Linked DNA regions of Homo sapiens: region 1 is linked to region 2. The links come from fine-mapping of genetic effects on gene expression. A gene starts in region 2. The other region holds a variant in brackets. All regions are shown on one strand. Distances are between the middles of the regions.

Evidence for each region. PIP is the estimated chance that this variant, and not a neighbour inherited with it, causes the effect.
Region 1: its variant is fine-mapped to the expression of SMCR8 in whole blood (INTERVAL, PIP above 0.99).

The regions. Positions count from the first base shown.
Region 1 is chr17:18,236,932-18,245,964 of GRCh38, reverse strand. It overlaps LLGL1 (LLGL scribble cell polarity complex component 1), which reads right to left. Exons shown (of 23, transcript NM_004140.4): 13 at 9,026-9,033; 14 at 8,192-8,484; 15 at 7,751-7,898; 16 at 7,356-7,509; 17 at 5,092-5,387; 18 at 4,250-4,514; 19 at 3,966-4,080; 20 at 3,687-3,799; 21 at 3,337-3,457; 22 at 3,143-3,222; 23 at 1,090-2,057. The coding sequence ends at 3,144. FLII (FLII actin remodeling protein) reads left to right here. Exons shown (of 30, transcript NM_002018.4): 26 at 1-31; 27 at 115-221; 28 at 305-410; 29 at 546-611; 30 at 693-1,150. The coding sequence ends at 827. Among named protein-coding and RNA genes, the nearest start is that of LLGL1, 16 kb to the right of the region's middle. The variant C/T (reference allele first, on the strand shown) is at 4,585.
Region 2 is chr17:18,311,662-18,320,071 of GRCh38, reverse strand. It overlaps SMCR8 (SMCR8-C9orf72 complex subunit), which reads right to left and starts at 4,779. Exons shown (of 2, transcript NM_144775.3): 1 at 1,923-4,779. The coding sequence starts at 4,282. It overlaps TOP3A (DNA topoisomerase III alpha), which reads left to right and starts at 5,078. Exons shown (of 19, transcript NM_004618.5): 1 at 5,078-5,473. The coding sequence starts at 5,294. It also overlaps the pseudogene RPL7AP65 and the pseudogene RPL21P121. RefSeq lists enhancers at 4,719-4,768, 4,458-4,981, 5,109-5,458, 5,469-5,558, 5,506-6,029 and a silencer at 4,909-4,958.

The DNA.
Region 1 (9,033 bases), 74 kb after region 2:
CACCATGTTTGACACCTCCTACAGCAAGCAGGTCAGGAGGCGGGCGGGCAGGCGGGCACACACAGAGGAGCCAGGGCAGGCAGGGGCCCTGGGCTGGACTGGCCTTTCCCGCAGGTTATCAACGAAGGTGAGGAGCCTGAGAACTTCTTCTGGGTGGGCATTGGGGCACAGAAGCCCTATGATGACGATGCCGAGTACATGAAACACACACGTCTCTTCCGGTGAGGCCAGGGCCCTGACCCTCCCCTCAGTCCTGGCACTGCTGCTTATGACCTCTGGCCTCACCTTGACCCTTGATTCCCAGGTGCTCCAACGAGAAGGGCTACTTTGCAGTGACTGAGAAATGCTCCGACTTTTGCCAAGATGACCTGGCAGATGATGACATCATGTTGCTAGACAATGGCCAAGAGGTGTGATGTTGCCACTAGCCCTGCCCATCCAAGGAGGCGCCCATAGACTTACTTACAAATGGGAATTCTCGGGCCAGGAGCAAGGGGCTGTTCCCAGGCACCCATGCAACCGTATCTCCCCTGCTGCCCCCACAGGTCTACATGTGGGTGGGGACCCAGACTAGCCAGGTGGAGATCAAGCTGAGCCTGAAGGCCTGCCAGGTAATCTGGGTGGAGGGAGGGCCGAGGTGGGCCTGTGGGCAGGGCAGGGTCATCACCCAAGGCTCGCTGTCCCCTTGCCAGGTATATATCCAGCACATGCGGTCCAAGGAACATGAGCGGCCGCGCCGGCTGCGCCTGGTCCGCAAGGGCAATGAGCAGCACGCCTTTACCCGCTGCTTCCACGCCTGGAGCGCCTTCTGCAAGGCCCTGGCCTAAGACAGGCTGGCACAGCCCCAGGCTTGGTGAGGAAGAGGAAGGGGCCTCATCCACTGTCTGCTAGCAAAGAATGTACTCAGGTGACACCACCTGCTCCAGCCACGTCCAGTGCCACAGTCCCCAGTAGCCTCAAGCAGCACCAATGGGGATGACCCTGACAGGTGCCCTCAGGGGTCTGGGAAATCCAACTCTCTCCACAGTGTGAGTGCACGTGTGAAGCCCCCTCACTCTTCCGCTAGGGATAAAGCAGATGTGGATGCCCTTTAAGAGATATTAAATGCTTTTATTTTCAATATTAAAAATCAGTATTTTTAATATTAAAATGGCGCTAATTTTAACAAAACGACAGAAAAAAACCCCAAGGTACAATCTACAGGGAAACTCATCTTGACCCCCCCCCCTGCCCCCCCCCCCCGCCGGACACACACACCTGACTAGGCCCCAGATGTGGGTGCCCAGCAGAGCTCCCAGTCACATCCATGCCCGCACACACACACTCATGACAGGCTGGGGACTGGCCCAGAAGCAGGTACCAAAATAGTTTAGTTTTAGAAACAACTGTCCAGCCCAGGCGCTAGAAAAATACTCTTTGCAGGGCTGGGCATGGTGGCTCACGCCTGTAATCCCAGCACTTTGGGAGGCTGAGGTGGGTGGATCACGAGGTCAGGAGATCGAGACCATCCTGGCTAACATGGTGAAACCCCATCTCTACTAAAAATACAGAAAAAATTAGCTGGGCGTGGTGGTGGGCGCCTGTAGTCCCAGCTACTTGGGAGGCTGAGGCAGAAGAATGGCGGGAACCCAGAAGGCGGGGCTTGCAGTGAGCAGAGATGGGGCCACTGCACTCCAGCCTGGGCGACAGAGCAAGACTCCGTCTTTAAGAAAAAAAAAAAAAAGGAAAAATACTCTGCAAAGTGAGGGGGAAGGATGGTGTGTGGAGGGGGGGAGGTGGCACAGGTGCTGGGCCCCACCTGTCCTCTTCCCTAGGCAGTGGGCCCCCAGGGCAGCCAAATGCCTGCAGGAGGGCTCAGTTCTGGCCCAGGTCCCAGGCCCACACCCTGGGGCTGGTGCTGCTCCAGGGCCCAGGGTCAGGCGGGACAGGACAGCAGGTCCCAGTGGAGCCTACAGGTTAGCAGGCGTGGTTCTATGTTAAGGGGCCAGGCAGGTGCCAGGGATCCAGCACTCCAGCTCCGAGCAGGGCAGGTGGAGGTCGGGATAGTTCTGGCCTTCCTGGAAGAGGGAGAGAAGAGGTATCAGCAGAAGGTGAGGGAGGGCAAAAGGGCAGATGGATTGCCACAGCGGCCAGACCACACAGGTGCTGCCACTGTCTCCTCTGCAGGGCAGGCATGGCCCTTCAGTGACCACCTGAGATGGGCTTGCTGAGTCTCCAGATGGGTATCCAAGCGCCAGGCCACATATGCCCCACTGAGGCCAGGGAGAGGCACCAGACAAAGAGCTGGGAGGTGTCCATGTCCTGTGCAGGGTGAGGCTATGGCCTACAGTCAGGTGCCTGGGAACATGAGGCAGCAAATGCGCTGGGCAGATCTATGGGCCCCACATCTAGGTGAGGATCCACAGACTCAGGCAGGGGTAAGTCAGCCACTTGCTGGGCCCAACCGATGAGACCTGACCTCGTGCACCTCAGTGATCTCATCTATGAAACAGGCTGGCCAAACCAGCTCCCAAGCCCCAAACTACTGCCACCTCTAAGTGGTTTAATCTGGTCTTGTTGGCCGGGTGCGGTGGCTCACGCCTGTAATCCCAGGACTTAGGGAGGCCGAGGCGGGTGGATCATGAGGTCAGGAGATCGAGACCATCCTGGCTAACACAGTGAAACCCCGTCTCTACTAAAAACACAAAAAATTAGCTGGGTGTGGTGGCGGGCGCCTGTAGTCCCAGCTGCTCAGGAGGCTGAGGCAGGAGAATGGCATGAACCCAGGAGGCAGAGGTTGCAGTGAGCCAAGATCACGCCACTGCACTCCAGCCTGGGCGACAGAGCAAGACTCCGTCTCAAAAACAAAACAAAACAAAACAAAACAAAACAAATCTGGTCTTGTCCTAACCACCACCTGTCACATGCAAGGGCTGAGGGGCTGGCCCTGCTTTTCTAATACCCAACCATGACACTGGTGTCTGTGTGAGCACCAGAAGTCCCCAATTGAGGCACTCCATGGAAGGCAGCCAGGTTTCAGAGAGTGCCATCACATGGGCCTGCCAGGGTCTCAGGTAGAAGACCAGGGCCAAATGGTACCCAGACGGGCTGAAGGGGGTGGACGTCACCAGTGGTGAGGACCAGGGCCCCACCCCTGCAGCACCTCATTTGATCAGGATGGCACAGGCGTGGGCCTCGTCTTCTGCCAGGTTCCTCAGGTTCTTCTCTGACTCCTCAGAGGAGCTGCGAGATGGGGATGGTGCTCAGGGGTGGGGGCGGGGGAGCCCCTGGCAGCCCTGGGGACGGAGGCCTAGGGGACAGGGCAGCCCCCCCTGTGGACCTGCCCACCAGCCTCACCCCAGGAAATCCTTCACATCTTCCACTGTGACGTCCCCTGTCGTGTCCAGCGTGGTGTCAGCACTGGTGGCTGAGTCGATGGACATGGGTGAGAGTGCAGCCTCGGGTGGCTCCGGGGTGTCTACAGGGAGCAAGTCATCAGCCCCTACCAGGACCCTTAGCACCCTCTGCACCTGGGGGCCTAGGGACACAGACCCATAAGGCAGCCCATGGTGAGGGGTGGCACCAGTGAGCACACAACCACCCATCTCCTACAGAAGCCTGCCCGATCCCTGAGCTATGTGAGTCCCGACTCCCTCCCCCAGGGCACCGTGGGGCCAGGGTCTGGACCCCTTTCATGCCCCCCTCACCAGGTCCCATGCTGTGGGCTGGATCAGGGCTTCCATCAAGGCTCTGTGGGGCCAGCAGGATGCTTGGGGTCCCGTTAGCCTGGCTCAGCTTGGGTGACTCTCGGATCCTGTAACTGCAGAGATGGGGCCATGATGGGGACCATAGGTGGATGACTTGAGGCTGGCACGCTAGATCCTTGCCCTCCCACTCCTGAGCCCAGGGAAGGCAGATCTCGGGGGTGGGATGAGACCTGGCCCTGGGCACAGGTCCCCCAGGCTAGGAGCTGCCCCTCCACACACCTGGCCTGGGTGGCATCGCGGGGCCAGTTAATGTCCAGAGAGCAGAGCGGCTCTGTGATGTTCCGGGCACTTAGGGAGAAGCGTTCAAATTCTGATGGGGATATCAGGTAAAAGCCTGGGTGGGCAGAAGAATGAGGAGTGCAGTTAGAAGATACCACCAACCACAGCTCCTCCGTGGCCTGGGCCTGTGCCCACCTGGAGTGCCCTTCCTGCTCCCAAGCAGTACTGGTCCCACTCAGTTCGCTCGCCTGAGGAAGGCCTCCTCGGCCTCTGCCCCGCCTCACCCTGGCCATGGCGCGTAAAGACGCACGAAGCGATGCCGCTGATGTCCTCCTTCCGGATGCAGGAATAGTGCACCTGGGGCCGCAGGCCAGGCACCGAGAAGACGTGGACGTCACCCAGGTTGGTGAGGCAGGCCAGGCAGGTCTCAGCATAGTCCTCGCAGGCCACACTGGCAAACGTGGCCAGTGCCACCTTGCGCACACGACAGCCCTCATGGGCCGTCAGCTTGAACTTGGTCTTCGCGCTCACCTTGGGCAGTGTGAACACCTGACAGCAGGTGGCTGGTGAGCACAAAGCCTGGCCCTGTCCTCGTCCCCAGGGCCCCTCACCCTCGTGG[C/T]TGCTGACCCAACAGCCCCCACCACAAAGCCCAGCTGCATGCTACGTGGCCTCCCGTGCCTGTACACCTGGCTGCCCCACTAAACTCCAGACTTCACACTGTACTCCAGAAACCTCCCAGGCCCTCTCTCGATCTGTGACAAAATCAATCACAGAGTTATGCCAAGGTTATGCAGCTGGTATCCCCATCAAACCTCGAGTTCTTTCGAGGCAGAGCCCCTGGGGACTGGGCTCAGGGGTCTGGGCCCAGTACAGGAGCCTTGTGTGGCACAGTGAGATAGGACTAGATTCCTGCCCTCCCAGGGGAACTCAGCAGGCTGAGGGGGCATCAGGGTTCTTGGGTAGGAGTTCTCTGCTGGCTGGGAGTGTTTTCTGGGGTGCAAGGGAATTAGGGTCCCAACAGTGGGGGATACAGGCAGGAAGGGTTTCTTGAGGGTCCAATGGTGTCCATGAGGTTGGGGCCTGGAGGGGAGTCCCCCAGAGTCCCCCACAGCCCACAGTGGCTCACCTTGAACTGCTCCTCAGATGCGATGAGCACAGCGTGACCACCCTGCATGTCAGGTGCCTGCGCCAGGTCCCGTGAGGCCTCGTAGGGCTCGGGCAGTGGGCGGCCACGCCCGTCCAACACGGCAATGGCCACCACAGGCGCCCGGTGCATCAGCTGCACCTCCTTGCCCAGCACGGCCTCCACCGCTTGCTCAGGCCGCTTCTCACCACCCACTGCTGCTGCCGGCACCTCCAGTGCATAGGCGAACACAGAGCCTGAGTTGGTGCCAGCCCACATGGTGGGCCCGTGGTGGGCCCCTGCAGAAAACAAGCGCGTAGGAGGGTGCTCCCTGTGGGCCAGGCATCTCCCCTGGGGTCTTCCCACAGACTGCAGGTCCCTCCCTGCCTCTCTTGTAGCCCTGCTTCCTAACTATGACACCCTGGGACTCAGGGCTGATTCCCTCCTGCCCCATGCCTCCCTGGTGACCTCCAGCCTCGAGGCCTGAGACCCCAGCTCTATGCTGCTGACTGCAGTCGGAGCCCAGGATGCAGCCCTCCTGCAGAGGCCCGAACAGCTGTAGCGCATCTGCACAGAATGCTGATGGGCACCCAAACCAGACCTCCAGCCCCATCCCACTGCACCCTCAGCCCCCATCTCAGTAAACGCAGCTCCATCCTAGCATCACTCAGGCCCCAAGCCCCACAAGACCCCGACTCCTCTCTCCACCCCTGCGTCCCCTTGCTAGTCCTGTCGACAGGTGTGCCTTGTCTTAGCCCTGCTTCACCCCCACTGTCTTCAGTGTGCTCCCTACGTGGCAGCCAGAGGAAGCCGCCAAGCCTGGGGACACCTAGGACGACCATCCATCGACCCTGCTCTGCCTGTGTGAACTGAACCTCTGGGTGACAAGCTTTAGTGGAGAATCAGAGCCCAGCCCAGCAGAAGCAAGAGCAGACTCGGCACCTGCTCCCTGATGACCCGATGGATCCTGAGGCATTAAGTGTCTGCACAACTCAAAACATGCCCAACAGGAACCCCAGCCGGCCATGAACATGAACCCATCGGCCTTCTCGGGCCAGTGGAACAAGTTAAAAACCCCAGGCTCTCCTCTTCTAGGTCTTTGTAGTCAAAAAAAACAAAAAGTCAAAGAACCCCCCACCCCCAGCTGCACCCGCCACATCCAGACAGTGAGAAAATCCACTGCACAAAGACCCTCGACAAATAAATGGCATCAGAAAGCTGAGCTCGTAGACCAAGCAGATGACACTCAGGAATTCACATTGGTTCTACAGGGCATGATGTGAGCAGTGGCTGTCAGTGACATCTGTCAGGAACATGCTGAAGTACTTGTATCTGGGTTTTCATTTAAAATACCCCGGCAAAAAAAACAGCAAAGAATGTGGAGGAGGGGGGCAGAATCCGCAGGGGCACATGGCTGGTGGCAGGCATGTGAGGTATGTGGGACAACTTTGCACCTCTCTATTTTTGTGTATGTTTGAAACTCTCCCATTGTACAAGTTCAAAATCAATCAGTGACTCAATCAACAAATCCAGGACCTTCCCAGGGCTCCCAGGCCACTGAGAATCAAAGCCAGGTCCTCAGCCTCTGGCCAGCAGCAGTATCTCCCTGAACCACACACCTCGACCCTCACCTGCTCCACTCCAGCCAAGTGGCTGGGCAGCTGCCCACACACATGCCCGGCTCGGGGCCTGGGCACTGGCTGGTGCCCCTCACCGTCATCCACCAGGCCTCAACCTCCCTTCTCCTGGCTCAGATCTGAGAGGCCCACCCAGCTCACTCAAAAATCCTTTACCATCCAGCTCCCCCAGAGAGACTGGGGGTGACCCAGCAGTCCCCCTGGGAGAGCTGGATGGTAAGCTTTTTTTCTGAGAAGGTCTCACTCTGTTGCACAGGCTGGAGTGCAGTGGTACGATCTCGGCTCACTGCAACCTCCGCCTCCCACGTTCAAGCAATTCTCCTGCCTCAGCCTCCCAAGTAGCTGGGATTACAGGCGCCCGCCACCACACCTGGCTAATTTTTGTATTTTTAGTAGAGACGAGGTTTCACCATGTTGGCCTGGCGGGTCTCAAACTCCTGACCTCAGGTGATCCGCCCACCTCGGCCTCCCAAAGTGCTGGGATCACTCACAGGCTTGAGCCACCGTGCCCAGCCACCTCCTGGAAGGTGCAGTCCCACCACCTCCCTTGCCACCACCCATCTCCCAGGTGGCCAATTGAGGCCAGCCCCCCCAACCCTTGCCCTGTCCCTGCCCCTGCCCCTGCCTTACCATCTCGAAGGAATGTGTCGGCAAAGTATAGGCAACGCACGACACCCGACAAGGAGTCATCGGCAGAGCGGGGCTCAATGCGGCGCTGCACGGGCGTCATCTCCACGTCGTGGGGGCAGGCCTGCTCAGCCAGCTGTGCATTGGCTTCCTGCAACTGCCGGGCGGGGGCTCCTGAACACTGTCTCCCTAGCACCCCAGTGGCTTGCATCCTGCTTTGCGCCCTACGTTCTGTTACCATTCCTCTACCACCCAGCTTAGTTCACCCATCCCTCTGGAGGGCCCAGGGGCTGCCGAGGGAGGAGCACTGAGCTAAGCAGGCCCCAGGGGTCCCAGGCCAGAGCCAGGCCAAGGCACAGGACACAGGCACAGCTCCTGTGCAGCCCACCCCAGCTCACCTTGCTGCTGGCATTAGCAGCCCGCTTCTTGCCAGAGACACGACTCTTGCGAATGCGCCGGAAAGACTGGCGCAGTGACTTCTTGAGAGACTTCACCCGGGAGAGCGGACCCTCCATGGCCAGGGAGTCATTGGGGTGAAGAGTGCACCTGGGGGAAGACAGGGTCCAGTCGTGCTATAGAGCAGCCTCCTGGGGCAGCCACCACACTCCTGCTGGCCTGTGGAGGCACCCAGGTCAGGGAGTCACAGCCCCTCTGGCGCAGTCCTATGGACCCAGCTGCAGGTGGTACTGAGAATGTCCTTCTTGGAGCTGCCAGGTTATTTCTTATAGGGCAATGGAGGTTAGTGGCCTTTGCCACACCAAACACTAGAGGTGGAAACGGAAGCCCAGACCCCATCTCGCTGGGGGCTCCAACTGCCCAGCCGGCCCCACCCCACACACCTGGCCAGCACAGGGCTCTTGCGCTGGTAGTCGAAGAGGCCAAAGCCATGACTGGTGCCAAAAGCCACGAGGCTCCACTCGGTGTGGAGTGTGACAGCGGTTACAGCAGCTGGCGGCAGGCACTGCACCAGGACACGGGGCTGGAAGCCAGCAGGCCAGGGCAGCGGCCCCGTGCGTGGGCTCAGCCGCTCGTGGCCCTTCCATGTGAAGCCCTCGCGGTCCTGGAGGAGGTCTATGATGGCCACGCTGACCGCCTGCTCCACCGGCACATCACTAAGCTCCAGTACCAGCACCTGAGCCCACAGCCAGGCAGGGGGAGCATCAGCGCAGGGGAGGGGCCGCCCTGGGCCCCACTCAGCCTGGAGCCTCTGAAGCAGCCCCAGCCACCACCAAGGTGGTTCTAGGACTGTCTTCAGTTCATCAGCTAAACAAGCACTCACTGAATGCCTACTGTATACCAAGGCCCTGGCTGAGCACAAGGAACACAGTGGTGACCAAGACACACTAGTCCCTGCCCTCTGAGGGCAAAGTGTCCACCCTTACCCTGAGCCTCTATCTCCCATTTAGCAATAAGGACACATTGAGCACCTCCTGTATGTCATGTGAGTGCCGGAGCACAGCACTGACATGAGTTCCCTCCTCTCAACACTGTGGTTCCCCCAGCGACAGGCCCACTTCCCATCTGTCCTCACCCCAGCCAGCCCCACCCAGAGCCCTATTCCCACCTTGGCTTTTGCCTGTGCCAGTCCATCTCCCTTTCCACCAGACCCTCCAGCTCATCTCTTCCAGAAAGCCCTCCCTGACATCTCCAACCCAGGGGACACCCAGCCCTACCTGGCCTG
Region 2 (8,410 bases):
TTCGGTCTGGGCTTGTGACTGCTGCTTAGTAAGCAATAGGATGACCCCTGGTGTTCACTTAAAATGACAGCAGGGCCGGGCTCACGCCTATAATCCCAGTACTTCGGAAGGCTGAGGTGGGCCGATCATTTGAGACCAGCCTGGCCAACATGGTGAAACCCTGTCTCTACTAAAGATACAAAAATTAGCCTGGCATGATGGCGCACGCCTATAATCCCAGCTACTGGAGAGGCTGAGGCACGAGAATAACCTGAGCCTAGGAAGCAGAGGCTGCAGTGGGCTGAGATCACATCACTGCACTCCAGCCTGGGCAACAGAGCAAGACTCTGTCTCCAACAACAACAACAACAAAAAACACACAAAACAAAAAAACCCGCAAATGACAGGATACCAGCTTGGTTGTTTAGCCATCTCTTATCCCCACAGATGGCTGACCCAACTACAAGCATTTCCAGGCAGAGTGAAAAAAATCAAGGGCCAGCAAGACTGGTGTTCGGAGGTGAGAGTCCTGAAAGAGAGTCCATCATGTGAGCAGTGGGCCTGAGTGAGGAGGCACACTTCTGGGCCGTGGTGCTCAGAGTGCAGAGCCTCTGCAGCGCAACACCTCCGAGGATAGGAAGGTCACAACCACCGAAGACATCTCTCCTGCTCGTGATTTTTAAAGCTGGGCCTCAGGTAGGCCCCAGTCTGCCTGCCTGTGTCGGTGCCGGTTCCACCCTCTGAGTGCTTCTCAGGGCCAAGCACTGCACTGTGCTGTGTTTTTTTGGACATGCACTAAACGTGGACCCTTCCGATGGCTCTCAGGTGGGCCCCGGGAGCCCTTCAGAGGTGTTCAACATGATTGGGTGACTGAATGAGATGGTTGGTCCGAATCCAGACAGCGAGTGGTGGCACACCAGGACTTGACCCAGACCACCCACTGCTCCCGCTAACTGCCACAGCCCACAACAGTTTCATCTTATCATACCCTCAGGTGGCGTCTACTGCTCACCTCCCCCAGGAATTCTTTGGGTGAGCTGTAGCCCATCCCATTCCCGTTTGGCCCCGCAGGGGACCCTCCAGGGTGCAGGGCTCCCCACACCTGCCCGCTGCACCTCATGCCTGTGTAGGATGCTGGAGGCAGATGCTCCCAGCACCCAACATCTGCACGTGCTCTGAAGGTTGAAAGAGCACTTACAGGGACAGCAGCCTAACCCTTTCCCCCGGAGTCATCTGTCCCTTCTGATGGGCCTTTTGCTTTTATAGAGAGATGCTCCCTGCAGTCGGGCTGGCAATGGCGACAGATAAATTCCATGTCTTACCTCACACCAACCGAATCAGAACCTCGAGGGCTTGTGACTCAGGAATCCATGATTTTAAAAACTTTCCGGCCAGGCACGGTGGCTCACACCTGTAATCCCAGCACTTTGGGAGGCTGAGGTGGGCAGACCACCTAAGGTCAGGAGTTCCAGACCAGCCTGGCCAACATGGTGAAACCCTGTCTCTACTAAAAATAGAAAAGTTAGCCGGGTGTGGTGGCAGGCGCCTGTAATCCCAGCTACTCAGGACAGTGAGGCAAGAGAATTGCTTGAACCCGGGAGGCGGAGATTGCAGTGAGCCAAGATCGCGCCATTGCACTCCAGCCTGGGGTACAAGAGCGAGACTTCGTTGCAAAAAAATAAAAATAAAAATAAAAACTTTCCCTAATAATGCTGACACAGCTCGGGGACAGATGGGGATTGGCAACCACCTAGGAACTGCAACCCCCTCACATGACAGACAAGGAAATAGAAACCAGAGAGGGGGATGACTTGCCAAAAGTAACACAGTGGTAGGAACTGGGCCCTGTCTAGAAGCCAGGCTTCCTGATTCTGGCTCCACCACACCAATATACCTCATCCCTATCTGGCCAAGGCCCTTCCCCACCACCTGGAACCAGTTACCTCTGCAAGCCAATAAGCTTCCACTTCTGAAAATCCATAATGTGCAAAGGGGAGGAGGCCCAATGTTTCACGGGCTTAGCGTAGCAGCCATAGCTGGGGACAAAGATAGCCAGTGCAGTCACGAGTTTCCTGACTATGGCCTCATCTTCCCCCAGGACCACAAGTGTCCTCCCACTGAGCAGGGAGTAGATGGCTGGGTGGGCAAAGGGGTACTGGCGGATGAATTTTAAGGCGTTCTGGCCAGCCCTCTTTTTATGCCTATCGGAAGACAGGCCAGCAGGATAAGCAGAGGGGATCCTGTCTGAGCTGGTGGACGCTACACTGCTCACGTAGCTGGTGGTGTCTGAGTAGTTGTCCAGGCTGGTCTTACTGATGTCCCGGCTAGCCAGCAGGTGGCTCGGGTCCAGCTCATAAGCGGGAAACCCTTCACAACTGTTGTCTCGGGAAGAAGGGTTGGCATTTTCCACTGAAAAGTCTACACGGAACCCCTGGTCCTTCTGCCTGTGGCGCTGTGGGGGGCTGCTCACCACCCCATCCTCGTCAGAGTGTGTGTGGGCTGGAGTGGAGGGCAGCACCAACTGACCATCGCTCTCCTTCCCAATACAGCAGGAGGAGTCTATTTGTGATGGGGTGTTTTCTATGCTGCCTTCCTCTGTCTCACCCAGTTCTGGAGGACTGATGCTTGCCTGGAAGCGGATGGCTCCTTCATTGCCATCTGGATATGATTCTTCTTCATTAATGGCACTTGGGTAGCTGGCCTTAAAGTCATCAGGGATGAGGGCCTCAGAGGGGCAGGTACTGAGGACTTCAATACTGTCCTCGCTGATGGTCCTGTGGCTGACTGCTTTGCTCCGGACCACCTGGGGGCTCAATGGTACTGTGAGGCTTGCCTGGCTGTCAGATTTAGAAAGCACGGAGGTGGATTTCTCCGTGCCCAAAACTTCAATACTTTCACCACTGCTGATACTCCCTTTCATATCCATATCCAGGTAGTCCAAGTTTTCCTGGGGGTCGAAACTGCTCAACTCAGTCACTTCCACTTCCTTGTACTCCTCATCTCCCAGTTCCTGCTCCATCTTGATCAACACAGACTCCACACTGGACTTGTAAGAACCAACACTAATTAACACTTTAGGAATTGGGCATTCTTCTAGAGAACTGGAAGGCGGCCTGTCTTGACTGGGCTTAGAGGGTATGCTTTCTTGTTTCTCCACCATCCTGTCATCGACCTCCACAAAGTCTTCAAAGAGAAAGTTTGTTATATGCTGTTGTTTTAGAAGTGCTCTATCAATCTGACTGGTCAGGAGGTAACACAGGTCTCCTCTGAACATGTGTTCAATGTGGCTGAGCTGAGCCAGGGTCTGGGTGAAATATTCAGTGTCACAGAGCTCCTCCAAGGTCTTCAACTTCTTGTCAAAACACTTGGTGGACTTTGCTTTGATAAGTTTTGGGGTGTAGGCTGGTCTGCAGGTGTAAAGGTCTGTGTCGGCAGACTCATCAGGGTTAGAGGTAGTGGATGCCTGGCTGGCCTGATCCTGGATGTGCTCCATCTCACCAGGACACAAATCATGCCCCTTCAACTTCCGATGAGGGTATGAGCGGATCTGCTTCAGCAGGTCTTGATGTTCAATGATGGACTTCTCCACACTGGCCAGTTCATTGGCTTTCTCAATTGCCTGAGATGAGTAAAAGCCTTTGTCGTTGGCTTTCTTCTGGATCTCCGTTTCTGTGTGTAGCACTGTCCTGGTGTAATCCAAGTCTTTCAGCTTTTTTTCAAGTTCCCCAGCAAATGCCTTCCTGTTGCCAGTCTTCAAGCACTCAGAAGCTCTGGAAAATTCGGCTGAAAGCTCCTGGAACTGCTGCATGATTTTATGCTGGTCTGCAGAGATATAAGCCATGCAAAACGGCCTCACGAAGCCACGGGCCTCCAGGTCGTATAGGGTAAGGTGGTGCACGTATGCAAAGGCGCCCTCCTTAGAATCTCCCAGCACCACCTTGGAGTCCTCCACGAAGTTCAGCTTGGGGTAGGCAGATCCAGGAGGATGGCCCACGAAGGAAGCCTGGTAATCCACAGACATGATACGCAGGGAGAAGTAATTGAGATCAAAAGTGCCAAAAACTTTGGTGTCATTGGGGATGGTCAGTAAGGGTTGGGGTCCCACCTGCTCAGAGAACTCGGAAATAAGAATGAAGTCCCTCGAAAACTTGGCCCCGGACAGTTTTGACCAGGGGTTAGCACCCTGACTGGCGAAGGGGAAGAGCGGCACCGAGTACTCCTCAGGCAGGGCCGGCTCATTGTAAGGCTCTTCTTCATACTCTTCCTCTTTGGTGAAGGCCACTACGTCAGGGGCGCTGATCATATTTCCAGATATATGAAGAAAACATTGAGAGGAAGTGGGAAAGAATGCGGTGTTAATCGACGCGCAGAAGGCAGGCCTCCGGAGAAGGAAGTGAAGCCCTTACGGCCTTCTTTGCGACTCCCCGAACCCGGGGTCCTAGGCTGCTTCTCACACACCCGAGGAGAAGAACTCTAGCAGCCCCCTCACAGTTGTAGCTCCTCCGGAGCTCTCTGAGGCCTCATGAACGCCAAGGCCGCAGGCCCAACTGCCCTTCTCTTCTTCGTCCGGCGAGCGCGGCCAGCACAAGAAACCTGCTGCGAAATCACCTGCACTCTCCGGAACCCACTGCGACAGCAAAAGCCCCCGCTCTGAACAAGGCTTAACGCGAGGCTACGGGACGCCGCAGGGGTCAGCCAAGCGCTGCTGCCCCTCACTGCCCGAGGGCAGAAACCGTCGCGGCTCCTAGGACGCCACAACCCGGATCCTGCTACCGCGGCGCCGCCATCTTGACATCACATGACTCCTGGTGTCCGCGCCGCGTGACCCGGAAGCGTCCTCGTAGACTTCCGAGCAGGAGATTAAAAAGTCATGAGAAAGAGGCCTTGGATGGGAGTGTCTGGCGGCTCCCCGCAAGAAGGAGTCCGATTAACCAACCACTGCCGGGAAGGAGGGGAAAGAGGGGCGGAGTGAGACGGGGGCGGCGGGAAGGTGGCAGAGGGGAACGTGCTTGGACGAGGGGCGCGGGACAGTCTGGGAGTTGTAGTTCCAGGTCGCTGTGGGGCGCGCGCCTGGCGGAAGTAGCTGGAGAAGGCGGGCGGAAGTTCCACGCCAAGATACTGGATTCGGTGCTGAGGCGGCGGCTGCGGCACGGGAAAGGCTCAGTGACTGAAGCTCCAAAGGCCAGCAGGCTGGTGGGGACGTGACCGAAGCGAGGCTCTGGTTCCCTTTCGGTGGGCGCCATTTGAGCCTCATCTCTGGCTTCCCCAGGATGCGCCGGCAGCCGGGGAGCGGCTCCGGGCGCGAGGTCTGAGGATGATCTTTCCTGTCGCCCGCTACGCGCTCCGGTGGCTGCGACGGCCCGAAGACCGTGCCTTTTCCCGCGCCGCCATGGAGATGGCCCTCCGAGGCGTGCGGAAAGTCCTCTGTGTGGCCGAAAAAAACGACGCGGCCAAGGGGATCGCCGACCTGCTGTCAAACGGTCGCATGAGGCGGGTAAGAAAGCGCGTTCCGATCAGCTGCGTGCCTTAAGGGAGGCCCACCGAGCGGGACAGCGTGGTGGGCGCCAAGAATCGAGATGAAGGCGATTATCTCCCATTTCTCAGGCCTCACTGCCCCTCGTCTGGATTATTGCAGTGGCCTCCTGTCTGCTCTCGGACTGGAGTGCATTTTAAAACGTAGTTGATACATCTCACTCATTTGCGTGGAAACCTTTTGTTTTGCTTGCGCTTAGCAGGTTCCCAAACTTGTCTGATTCTCGGAATCGCCTCGGGCGCTGGCTGCCCTTCGGGTCTTGTGTGAGGCTGGGGAAGTGTGTATTTTACTGTTTTTCCCTAGAGATTCAGAAATTCATTTGGGAACTACTGACCAGATTCCCTTAACTTGGCATTCAAGCCCTGCCCGATCGTTCCCCAGCCAACCTAGCCCTCCCCATCCTGTGCCACAGCCACTGCATTCTACAGCCCTTGTGACTTTCCAGCCTCACAGTGCACACTTACAGCAACACGGTAAGGTTTGGGGATTAGATTTGAAGTCAGCCCTGTTCCTACCCGAATGAACTGATTCTGAGAGAGGTAAGTGGTAAGAATGTGTTCTACACACACGGGAGGCACAAACGCAAGGGAGGATAAGAAAAAGTTTCATAAAGGAGGTGCCACGGGAGACATAAAGAGCTGTCCAGGAAAATATCTCAGATAACAAAAGTAGATCCTGAAATGGTTTTCTGGAGAACTTTTCTAAGAGCATGGGTGGAAGTTCCCTGCTCATTTTTCTTTAGTTCCCAGGGTCCTAAGACCTGTTTCCAGATCAAGGATAGTGGGAGTGGAGCCAGGGTTGTGTGAATGCTGGCTGACAGCTTTACCTGTTTCCAGTGCTAGAAGTCCTGGTGACCAGCCCCAAGGTTTGTCTACTTCTAGACAATGAAGTAGACATTGAAAAATGGTTCTCCTACGCCTAACTTCTTATCCTTCAAGGCTCTGCTGAATTCATTCTCTCTCTCTCCCTTTTTTTTTTTTTTTTTTAAGCAATCCAGAGGTCTTGTATTTATCTATTTTTACCCTATCATACCATGAATCCATAGGGAATAGGTTCCAGCGGCTCAGGCTCTTTTCCATTGGTTCTCACAAAGTGTACTTCCCTCAATGGAACAGGCTGGCACTTCAGGTGAACCCTTTCTCTTTGACTTGCTTCTTTTTTGATCATTTTCCTTCACACATTTCAGGAAAGATCTTGGTTCTTAGAGTGCTTAATATGCTCAATAGAAACATTAATTCTTTGGGCAAGAATCTAGCCCTTGTTCGCAGCAGTGCCAACAGCATGCTGGGTAACATAGACTTTTCCAGTTCTGCCATGTAACATTTGTGGGTCATTCCCTTTTGAACAGTATGCATTCTCACGAAGTCCTCAATATCACCTTCATTGTAGATTCTGGTGTCTGTGGCCAGAGAAACTCCATATTTTTGTTTTGTTTTGTTTGTTTGTTTTGAGATGGAGCTTTGCTCTTGTTGCCCAGCCTGGAGTGCAATGGTGTGATCTCAGCTCACTGCAACCTCCGCCTCCCGGGTTCAAGCGATTCTCCTGCCTCAGCCTCCCTAGTAGCTGGGATTACAGGTGCCTGTCACCATGCCCAGCTAATTTTTTGTATTTTTAGTAGTTTCACTGTGTTGGCCAGGATGGTCTTGAACTCCTGACTTCAGGTGAGCCACCCGCCTTAGCCTCCCAAAGTGTTAGGGTTACAGGCGTGAGCCACCGTGCCCAGCTCGAACTCCATGTTTTCTATAAGGCCAGGAGAACATACATCAGATGCCTCGTCCTCTTTTCCTTTGTGTTCGTCATTTTGGCAAATTACTCCAAGATGGCAGTTCCAGCCAAAAGGAAAGACTTTTCTTGGAAAGAGAATTTTTATTTTTATGTACAGAAAACACAACAGTGTGTACTTAACCCAGTTTAGTGGCAAATTCTTTAGCCTTTGCCTTTTCTAGGTTGGTAATGCAAGCTACAGATTTTGGACCCAGGGCATTGCCTCCCCAGTGACAGCAGATCTCATATGTCGTTGTAATTTGTCCCACCAGCTTAGCCAGAGCTCCTTTGTCTACCAGAAAGTTAACCTTTGTGAAGGTGACAGTGGTGCAGGTCTTCCTGTGGAATTTGACACCACAGTCTTGACGGTGCAGTAGAGAATCCCCATCTTAGGACACAGCACAGGCAGGAAGACAACCAGCTCAATGGGATCCACCACCAGCTGACCCTTCATGCTCTCTACCAAGTTGGTGACGGTGTCAACCCCTGCTCGAAGTGTAGGTGGTCTCTTAGTAGCGACATCCCCTTTGCTGGAAGCTTTCTTCTCAGCCTGGGCCAACGGTTTCGATCTCATCCCTTGCTCTGTCTCTTGTCTGTACTGTGGGCCAGCTTAAGCAATTGAGTAGCTTAAGTTTGGTAGTCTGAGGCCTGGGTGAACTGGTCAATCCCAGGTGGCACATCAGCCACTTATAGAGTACAGCGGCTCTGCCGCAGCAGCCATTTATAGCGGGACTATTTGACAAAGTGGGTGAGGCCCTTAGGCTAGATATCCAATGCCAAAATTATTAGGGCTTTTCTCAAATGGGATTTACCACCTTTTTGGCCTACTGCTGCTCCATGACAACAGGGGCCAGGGCCACTTCTTCCCCTTGGCCATCTTTCCTTTTGGCATCTGGGGCGGCTAGAGGAGAGAGGCTGCTGAAATGTCTCATCTTCAAGGAATCCTTCCCTCACCACCTGTTCCCCCACACTAGGTCAGAGACCCTTACTGACATGCTGTCATAGCACTCTATTCTACTTGAAAGGCATCTACTAGTTACAGTTAAATAATGGGATGTGCGATCATTTATTTGATTTTTGTCACTGCCTCTCCTTGGACTCTAAACTCCAAAGGACAGTGATTATATTTTGTTA